3 separate regions of the Homo sapiens genome follow, and regions 2 and 3 are each linked to region 1. Evidence: fine-mapped expression QTL. A gene starts in region 1. Each other region holds a variant in brackets. All regions are shown on one strand. Distances are between the middles of the regions.

Evidence for each region. PIP is the estimated chance that this variant, and not a neighbour inherited with it, causes the effect. A credible set is the group of variants that fine-mapping cannot tell apart.
Region 2: its variant is the best candidate, but not a certain one, in a credible set for the expression of RAD21 in subcutaneous fat (FUSION, PIP 0.51).
Region 3: its variant is the best candidate, but not a certain one, in a credible set for the expression of RAD21 in fibroblasts (GTEx, PIP 0.52).

What each region holds. Positions count from the first base shown.
Region 1 is chr8:116,873,688-116,876,455 of GRCh38, forward strand. It overlaps RAD21 (RAD21 cohesin complex component), which reads right to left and starts at 1,089. Exons shown (of 14, transcript NM_006265.3): 1 at 924-1,089. It overlaps RAD21-AS1 (RAD21 antisense RNA 1), which reads left to right and starts at 737. Exons shown (of 2, transcript NR_033886.1): 1 at 737-1,298; 2 at 1,734-2,768. MIR3610 (microRNA 3610) reads right to left here and starts at 1,113; the gene lies at 1,041-1,113. RefSeq lists silencers at 397-446, 607-926 and an enhancer at 1,037-1,086.
Region 2 is chr8:116,900,291-116,903,058 of GRCh38, forward strand. No RefSeq gene overlaps it. Among named protein-coding and RNA genes, the nearest start is that of MIR3610, 27 kb to the left of the region's middle. RefSeq lists enhancers at 1,497-1,586, 1,637-1,716. The variant C/A (reference allele first, on the strand shown) is at 1,571.
Region 3 is chr8:116,929,481-116,932,248 of GRCh38, forward strand. No RefSeq gene overlaps it. Among named protein-coding and RNA genes, the nearest start is that of AARD, 7.3 kb to the right of the region's middle. The variant C/T (reference allele first, on the strand shown) is at 1,328.

The DNA of each region.
Region 1 (2,768 bases):
CCCCAGGGTTTCCCTCTTACAAATTTGAAGAAGGCCGCTAAGTCTGGCAGCACAACCCGACAGTGTCACCCCACACTATCAAAGCGGATCATTCGCAAAAAGCCTTTTTCAGCGACGAAAAGGGCATCAAGCATTTATCAGAAACACACACCTCCCCCAGAGCGTCTCTACAACACCCGATATCCTTAATCACTTTAAAGAATGATCAGAAAAGTTCAGGGGAAAACCAATTATGCAAATATCCTTGGAAAAAGAAGCAACTTCCCTCCGTCTCTTTTTCCACGCGTCTGTGAAATATTCAGCATTCCCAACGTAAAAATTATCTTTTTAAAACGGGAGGGCAGCAGCAGTCACTGGCCGAGGGGCACCCGCCGACCCCCCGCCCCACCCCGCCCAGCCCCACCAGCTCCGCACTTTCTTGAGCCCCGCACCCGAGTTCGGCGGAAGGTTGCTGCTCCCGGGGCTGGCACCGCGGGCGCCGGGCCCGCCACCGCCTCCTCCCAGACAGCCATTTTTACCCGCGGAGTAGGCGGCCCGGTCCCCAGAGCGGGCTCGTTCAAACCTCCTCCCCTCCCTCCGCAGCCCAGGGTTTCCCCGGCCTCCTGGGGGACGTGAGATGGACCTGCAGGGTAACAGCCTTTGTAGATCTCAGAATGGATCAGAATCATTTGTTACCGAACAAGCGATGATGCGGGCCCAAGCTGCATGGGTCCGGGCCGAGGGCGGGCCCGGGGCGAAGGGGGCTGGGCGGGTGGCGCCGCCGCTTGGGCGCCGGGAGGGTGGCAGCACGCGTGGGCGCGGCGAGGGCTGCCTTCTCCCTCGCCCTCCCGCCCCCAGGAGTCCGGCTCCCCGACGGCAGAGCGGCGGGGAAAGGGTGGGGGGAGGGAGCTGGAGGAAAAGAAGGGGTCGGCCGAGTCTCTTACCTTGCTCTCCGCTGGGAGTTGGGCGGGCTGGGTGGCCCGGGGAGGGGAAAAGGGTCGGGGGAGGGGGTGGGGAAAGGGGGGAGCCCTTGCGAGGTGTAGCTTCCGAGCAGCTCCCGCCGCCGCCACAGCCGGCGCCTCCTTTCCGATTCACTCAAACAAACAAGATGGCTGCCGTTACGCCGCGGCTCTTCCTGCCGCCCAAATCCTCGGTTCAAATCGGCAGGATGTTTACGGTCAAAATGGTACCTGTGCGCCTGCGCAGCCAGCCCAAGCCCCCCCCTCCCCCCAGAAGGAGCGGCGCAGGCGCAATGACTATTTCCTTTTCTTTGGAACCCGCCCTCTGTTTGTGGAGTCCACAACTGAGCAAGCGCAAAGGTGATTCTCTTGCGAGGGTCTTTGAGAGTTGCGGTGTTAGCCAATAGCGTAAGATAGCGCACGCGCAGTGCTTTCCAGTGCGGTGAATATTTGCGTTTAGCTTTATTCTTGTGCTTGTTTTAAAGAAAAAAGCTGTCGTGGTGCAATTTTGTGTGCCCCCACCAAAAAATTCATTTTATGGCTCTATAGGGATGAAAGTAACATAAAAACCTCAAACTAATTCCATAAAATATAGAGGTTCATTTATTCAGTCAACCTATATTATAGAGGGTCTTCTGTTTGCTACACGTTGGGCTCTGGATATAATGATTAATATAACAGAGATAATAACTGCCTTTTGGAAATTTTCAGTATTGCTTGGGAGGAATCTTAAAATTTCTTATCTTAAAAGACTTACTTGTACCACGAAGAAATTTACTTTTGTTTTTATTGTAGAGATCTTTCCAGTGATGAAAGAAATTGAAGAGGACACACAAAAATGGAAATATATTCCATGTTCATGGATTGGAAGAATCAATATTGTTAAAATTTCCATACTACCCAGAGCAATCTACAGATTCAATGTAATCCCTATCAAAATATCAATGACATTCTTCACAGAAAGAGGAAAAAAATCCTAAAATTTATATGGAACCACAATAAGACCAAGAATAGCCAAAGCAATCCTGAGCAAAAGAATAAAGCTGGAGGCATCACATTACCTGACTTCAAATTATACTACAAAGTGATAGTAAACAAAACAGCATGGTGCTGGCATAAAAACAGACACATAGACTAACGGAACAGAATAGAGGACCTATAAATAAATCAATACATATACAGTCAACTAATTTCTGACAAAGCTGCCAAGAACATACGTTGGGAAAAGGATGGTCTCTTCCAAAAATTGTTCTGGAAAAACTAGATAACTATATGTAGAAGAATGAAACAGATCACTATCTTTTGCCATATTAAAAAAATCAAAACAAAATGGCTTGAAGACTGGAATCTAAGATTTGAAACTATTGAAACTACTAGAAGAAAACGTTAGGGAAATGCTCCAGAACCAAATATTTCTTAGTAAGACCTTAAAAGCATAGGCAAGCAAAGCAAAAATGGACAAATGGGATCATGCCAAGCTAAGAACCTTCTGCAAAGCAAACAACAAAGTGAAGAGACAACCCATCAAGTGGGGGAAAATACTTGCAAACTACTCATCTATCACAGAATTAATAGCCATAATATATAAGGAGCTCAAACAATATAATAGGAAAATAATCCAATTAAAATTGAGCAAAAGACCTGAATGGTTATTTCTCAAAAAAGACATACAAATGGCCAACAGGGATATGAAAAAATGCTTAACATCACTAATCATCAGAGAAATGCATATCAAAACTAGGATGAGGTATAATCTCATCCCAGTTGAAATGGCTTTTATCCAAAATACAGGCAATAATGAATGCTGATAAAGATGTGGAGAAAGAGAAA
Region 2 (2,768 bases), 27 kb after region 1:
CGGGTGTGTCTTTATCAGCAGTGTGAAAATGAATTAATACATCATCACTAATCATCAGAGAAATGCAAATCAAAATCACAATGAAATATCATCTCATTCCAGTTAAAATGGTTTGTATCAAAAAGGCAATAACAAATGCTGGTAAAGATGTGGAGAAAGGGGAACCCTTGTACACTCTTGGTGGGAATGTAAACTAGTACAGCCAATATAGACAACAGTATGGAGCTTCCGCAAAAACTAAAAACAGAACTACCAGCAATTCTAATACTGAGTATATATACAAGAAAAAGGAGATCAATATATCAAAGAGATATCTGCATTCCCACATTAATTGCAGCACTATTCACAATAGCCAAAATATGGAATCAACCTAAGTGCCAATGGATGGATGAATGAATAAAGAAAATGTAGAATATACACATAATTATTCAGCCATAACAAACAATGAAATCCTGCCATTTGCAACATGGTTGGAACTAGAGGCTATTATGTTAAGTGAAATAAGCCAAGCACAGAAGGACAAATATCACATGTTCTCACTCATATGTGAGAACTAAAAGAGTGGATCTCATGAAGATAGAAGATTGTTGGTTACCAAAGGCCAGGAAGAGTGGGAGGGAGAAGGGTTTGAAGGGAAAAAAAGAATATAAATGGAGCCATTATCACTTAATTGTACACTTAAAAATGGTAAGAATGGTAAATTTTATATGTATATTTTATCTCAATAAAAACCCCACAAAATTGCAAAAATTATTACTTTGTAATTATAAGCATATACTAGCCTAGGGATTAGAAGGAATACATGGTGGTGGGTTGAGGAGAAAACTATGCCAAAGACGTGTCTAAGAGAGCAGTCTTAAAAAAGGATTTCTTAACCTTTGCATTGTCATTAGGGGTGGACAATTTTCTGTTGTGGGATGCTATCTTCCGCCTAGGATGTTTATTAGCAGTAATCCTGGTATTTACGTGCTAGATGCCAGTAACATCTCCCCTCAGCCCTCCACCCCTGCCCTGCCCTGATGTAATAACCAAAAATGTCTCTAGACATTGCTAAATATCTCCTGGGGGCAAAATTATTCAGGGCTGAGAACCACTAAGTTGGAGTCAGAAGAGTGAAACAATTTTAAAAATTAGCTGGGTGTGGTGGTGCATGTCTGTAGTTCCAGCTACTCAGCATTGCTTGAGCCCAGTAGTTTGAGGCTAGACTTGGCAACAGCTCTGCATGCTGTATAGAGGTAGAGACCCTGAAAAAAGAAAGAATGAAAGAACGAAAGAAAGCAAGAAAGAAAGAAAAAAGAAAAAAATTGATCTAATCTTGAAATGTGAAGGAGACATCTCACTGCACAGAAACATAGAGAACAACTGTTTGTAATAATTATTAGTTTAATATATATTTTCTTTGCTAGATTGTAAGATGCACGAGGACAGAGACTGTAACTCTTATTTTTATAATCAGATCATAATCTGAAAGTTAGTCGACAGGTGTTTATTGCATTGCTATGGGTCTATCAATGGGTTATGTGCATTTGAGGCAGGATAGGTAGTCAAGGAAGTGACCATGTTGCCAGGA[C/A]GCAGTGATCGTGGTGGCCATACAACCAACACAGGCCTCAGCGTTCGCAGTATAATTGAGCTCATTCAAGCAAAGCTATCTGCGGTGGGGACTTTTCCTTCTAGAGAGCATGTGCACTTGGATTTTACCAGTCCTCAAATTGGCGCTTTGCTCATTTCAATAGTGAAAAATACACTCCTGGGTGGAGATTTCAGATGCTAATGAGACACACGATGCATGAACAAGCATGTGCAGCTACTGTGCATGTGCACCCAGAGGACCACCCAGAACATACCTACTAGTAACGCCTCTTCCCACCTTCTTATGAATTATTATGTAAAACTCCCATAAAGGGAGTCTCCCTAGTGCCAGTCTTTGCTGGCTCATCCTTATGGGCAGCCCACCCTGAATCCTCTCTCTCTCAGGGTGTCCTGTCTATTCTGTACCTACCTTTCAAAATATTCTTTTTCTTTTGCAATAAATCACTGTATGCTGCACCTTCTTTGCCAGGTGCTCTTATTTAAATTCTTTTAAACTAAGGAGACAAGAACTGAGGTCTCACAGAAACCATCAATATTTTGGAAATAAAAGAGAGGATTTAGAACTGAGTCTGTTCTTAAAGTGCTTCATGGCTTATTTTCTAATTGCTTACTATACAGTAGCTCTTTTCTGTGCTACTAGATAACAAAACCTATAGTACTAAAAACCATGTTCTTTTTCAAAGAATGCAGAAAAGAGTATGAAGTAGAGGAAGTAGAGGAGGAAGTAGAATTAAAGTTGATTCTTGATGAATGGACTAGTTTTCAGTGGGTGGAAGAAAAAAATGAATGAGGGATTCCGGATGTGGTGAACAGCATAAGCAGAGCTATTCAGTTAGGAATTAAAATCATTTTGGTGTTGAGAGCAAGCAACTATTTTTTTTTCTCGAGTACTTACTATGTGTCAGTTACTCTGTTAACTGGTATGTATATATTATTTCATTTATAGGACTCAGCCAGTGAAGGCATGAAAGTGTTAGAATCATTTTAATGGACTTGATTCAAATGAGGGTGGGGAAGTATAAGTAAAAGTCAATCCAAGATATTGTCTCAGCTCCTGGAACAGTGGTTCCATTGATGGCATGGCTGCTTGGAAAAGTGGTCAAAATTTATTGGTAATAGGAATTTTCTTTTTGCATTTTAGAGCTAAAAGGGGGCCTTCAATGTCATATTTGAATCTG
Region 3 (2,768 bases), 56 kb after region 1:
TGCTTTTCTCCTATTAATCGGTCTTTTGTCACTTTATTTTCAGGGAACCTTCAGAAGGTGAACGGGATCCCTGTGCCCCTACAATTTGTTATTTTCATCTAGGATTTTTCTGTAATTAAAAAAAGTTTTTTGAAAAACAGGTGTCTATATTGTTTTACACTAAACTAAAACTGAAGTAACTAACAAGTACAATTCACTGCAGGTACTCTCTTCATCTTGTAGTTCACGCTTAAGCACTGAACCTGTGCTAAGAAATGTGAGTATTCCTGTAGTCAAAGAGAGTCATCACTCAACCAACAAGCTACGTCCCTGTGAAAATTTTAGCATCTAATCATTAAATTGATTTAAAGCAAGAGAGATAGTATTGCTATTGTCTTATTAATGGAATGGTTTCAGTCATGTATGCTAATTTTCAATATTAGTACTTTTCAAGACTGGGAAACTCATTTGTTTTTCACTGAATGTGAATTTGAAAGGGTGAAATGAAATAAACTAAGAAAGGACAATCAAATTAATGTAAAAAAGGCAACAGTAATAAAAACAGTGTTCATACCAGTATTTAGCATAGTGCCTGGCAGATGATAGGTACTCCAAAATACTTTTTTTTTTAAAAAGATGGGGTCTTACTAGGTTGTCCAGGTTGGAATGCAGTGGCTATTCACAGGTGTGATCATTGTGCACTACTGCCTCAAACTCCTGAGCTCAAGCAATTCTCCTGTCTCAGCCTCCTGAGTAGCTGGGACTACAGGTGCAGCCACTGCACCTGGCTTCCCAAAATTCTTCTTGAATGAATGAATATTGAATGAATGAATGTTCCTTAATTCTAGGTACATCAAAAGCAGTGTGAATTGGTGCACATGATTTTAGATGTTAGGCTGTTTCAATATTACACAGAAACTAAGTCTCCACATGATAACCCTAGTGTTTTCCCTAAAACAACAAACCATTAAGTTGAAGTACCAACTGTTTCTTCTCATCTTCATGATCATTTAAAATATCTGGCTCTTTTCCTCTCTTTTATGCATCATAATTTTTCAAATGTTTTTCTATTCTGTGTCTACTGGAGGTTGTTAATGTTGTTATGACTGTTAATTCTTCTTTATAGAGTTATAGAAGGATCTCATAAAAAGTAATATTGGTGTGTAAATAAGATGCAAGAAGCAATGACCTTCATTTTTCTATTCAATAGAAAGGAGATAAAATAATGAGTAATAAAATCCTTCTAGAAATTCTGATTCTTTTTTGATCAACTTGATACAGGTCAGGTAGAAGTGGTCTCCTGACAGAAGTAATAGTCTTTTTCAATCCAGTGGAGAAAGCCTATGTG[C/T]TCCCAATAACCCCACTTAGTTTTGTTGATATTTGAGCATTAGTGGGTAAGTTGTGGTTAAATATCACCTTGTTTTTTCTTACTAGAAACTTAATGTTACATTTTTAACATTTAATGTTAATTTTATTTAATTTCAATTTAATTTTAATGTTATGTTGATAGAAGAGATAACACTTTATGGTTAAAATCTTGTTTAGGATCTGTATAATTTGATTTCACTTCTCAATCAGATGGATTCTATGAAGAGTTCAATCAAAAAGATAGGAGGTATGTTTCCATTTCTATTCAGAGTTTTAAGGAGAGAATCTTATCTTTTGGGGTTCCTCAACCCTTTTTGATAAATGGTAAAGGAACATTTTGAAAATGTTGTTGTACAGATATATTTGCAGATATATGGTGCAGATATAGTTGGTATTTCCTAAAAAATCAACTCATATAAATATTTGAGAGTCTGTTGTTTTGGTGAAACAATGGAACCATTATGTGATTGGTATTATGTAACTGAAGGTTTCAAATGGCTTCCTGCATTTACCAATAATTCACAAGGGATGCATTTAGGTATATTTTCTACCAAGCCCACAGCATTTTGGCTGAGATTTCCAAGTCAGGTGAATCTCTTCTATTGTTCACATTGGTGTCTATGCCAAAGAGGAGTGATTCAACAGAAAGGCAGTCTTGCAGCACATAGCTGCCAGGTTTCTGGATCATACCTATTTAAAAGATGTAAATTTGGGACCCAGTCAAGACACAAGAAAAAAAATGCAGGTTAATGAATGGCATAAATATTTATATTTTACCTATGTATGTAATACCTAAAACTAAAGCCCAAAGAGAAATGAAAATCAATAGAAAGTGAAAACAAATGAATCTGAACTTTCAGATTGTATTTTAATTCACTGCCTGATATGTTTAGACGACTGCATAGCATTCCCTCTTTTTTTTTGATGGAGTTTCACTCTTGTTGCCTGAGTTGAAGTGCAATGCCATGATCTCAGCTCACTGCAACCTCCACGTGCCAGGTTCAAGCGATTCTCCGTCCTCAGCCTCCCAAGTAGCTGGGATTACAGACATGCACCACCACACCTGGCTAATTTTGTATTTTTAGTAGAGGCGGGGTTTCACCATGTTGGTCAGGCAGGTCTGGAACTCCTGACCTCAGGTGATCCACCTGCCTTGGTCCCCCAAAGTGCTGGGATTACAGGCATGAGCCACCACGCCCGGCCTGCATAGCATTTTTTTTTTTTTTTTTTTTTTTTGAGACGGAGTCTGGTTCTGTCGCCCAGGCTGGACTGCAGTGGCGTGATCTCGGCTCACTGCAGGCTCTGCCTACCAGCTTTACGCCATTCTCCTGCCTCAGCCTCCCGAGTAGCTGGGACTACAGGCGCCCACCACCATGCCTGGCTAATTTTTTTGTATTTTTAGTAGAGATGGGGTTTCACCG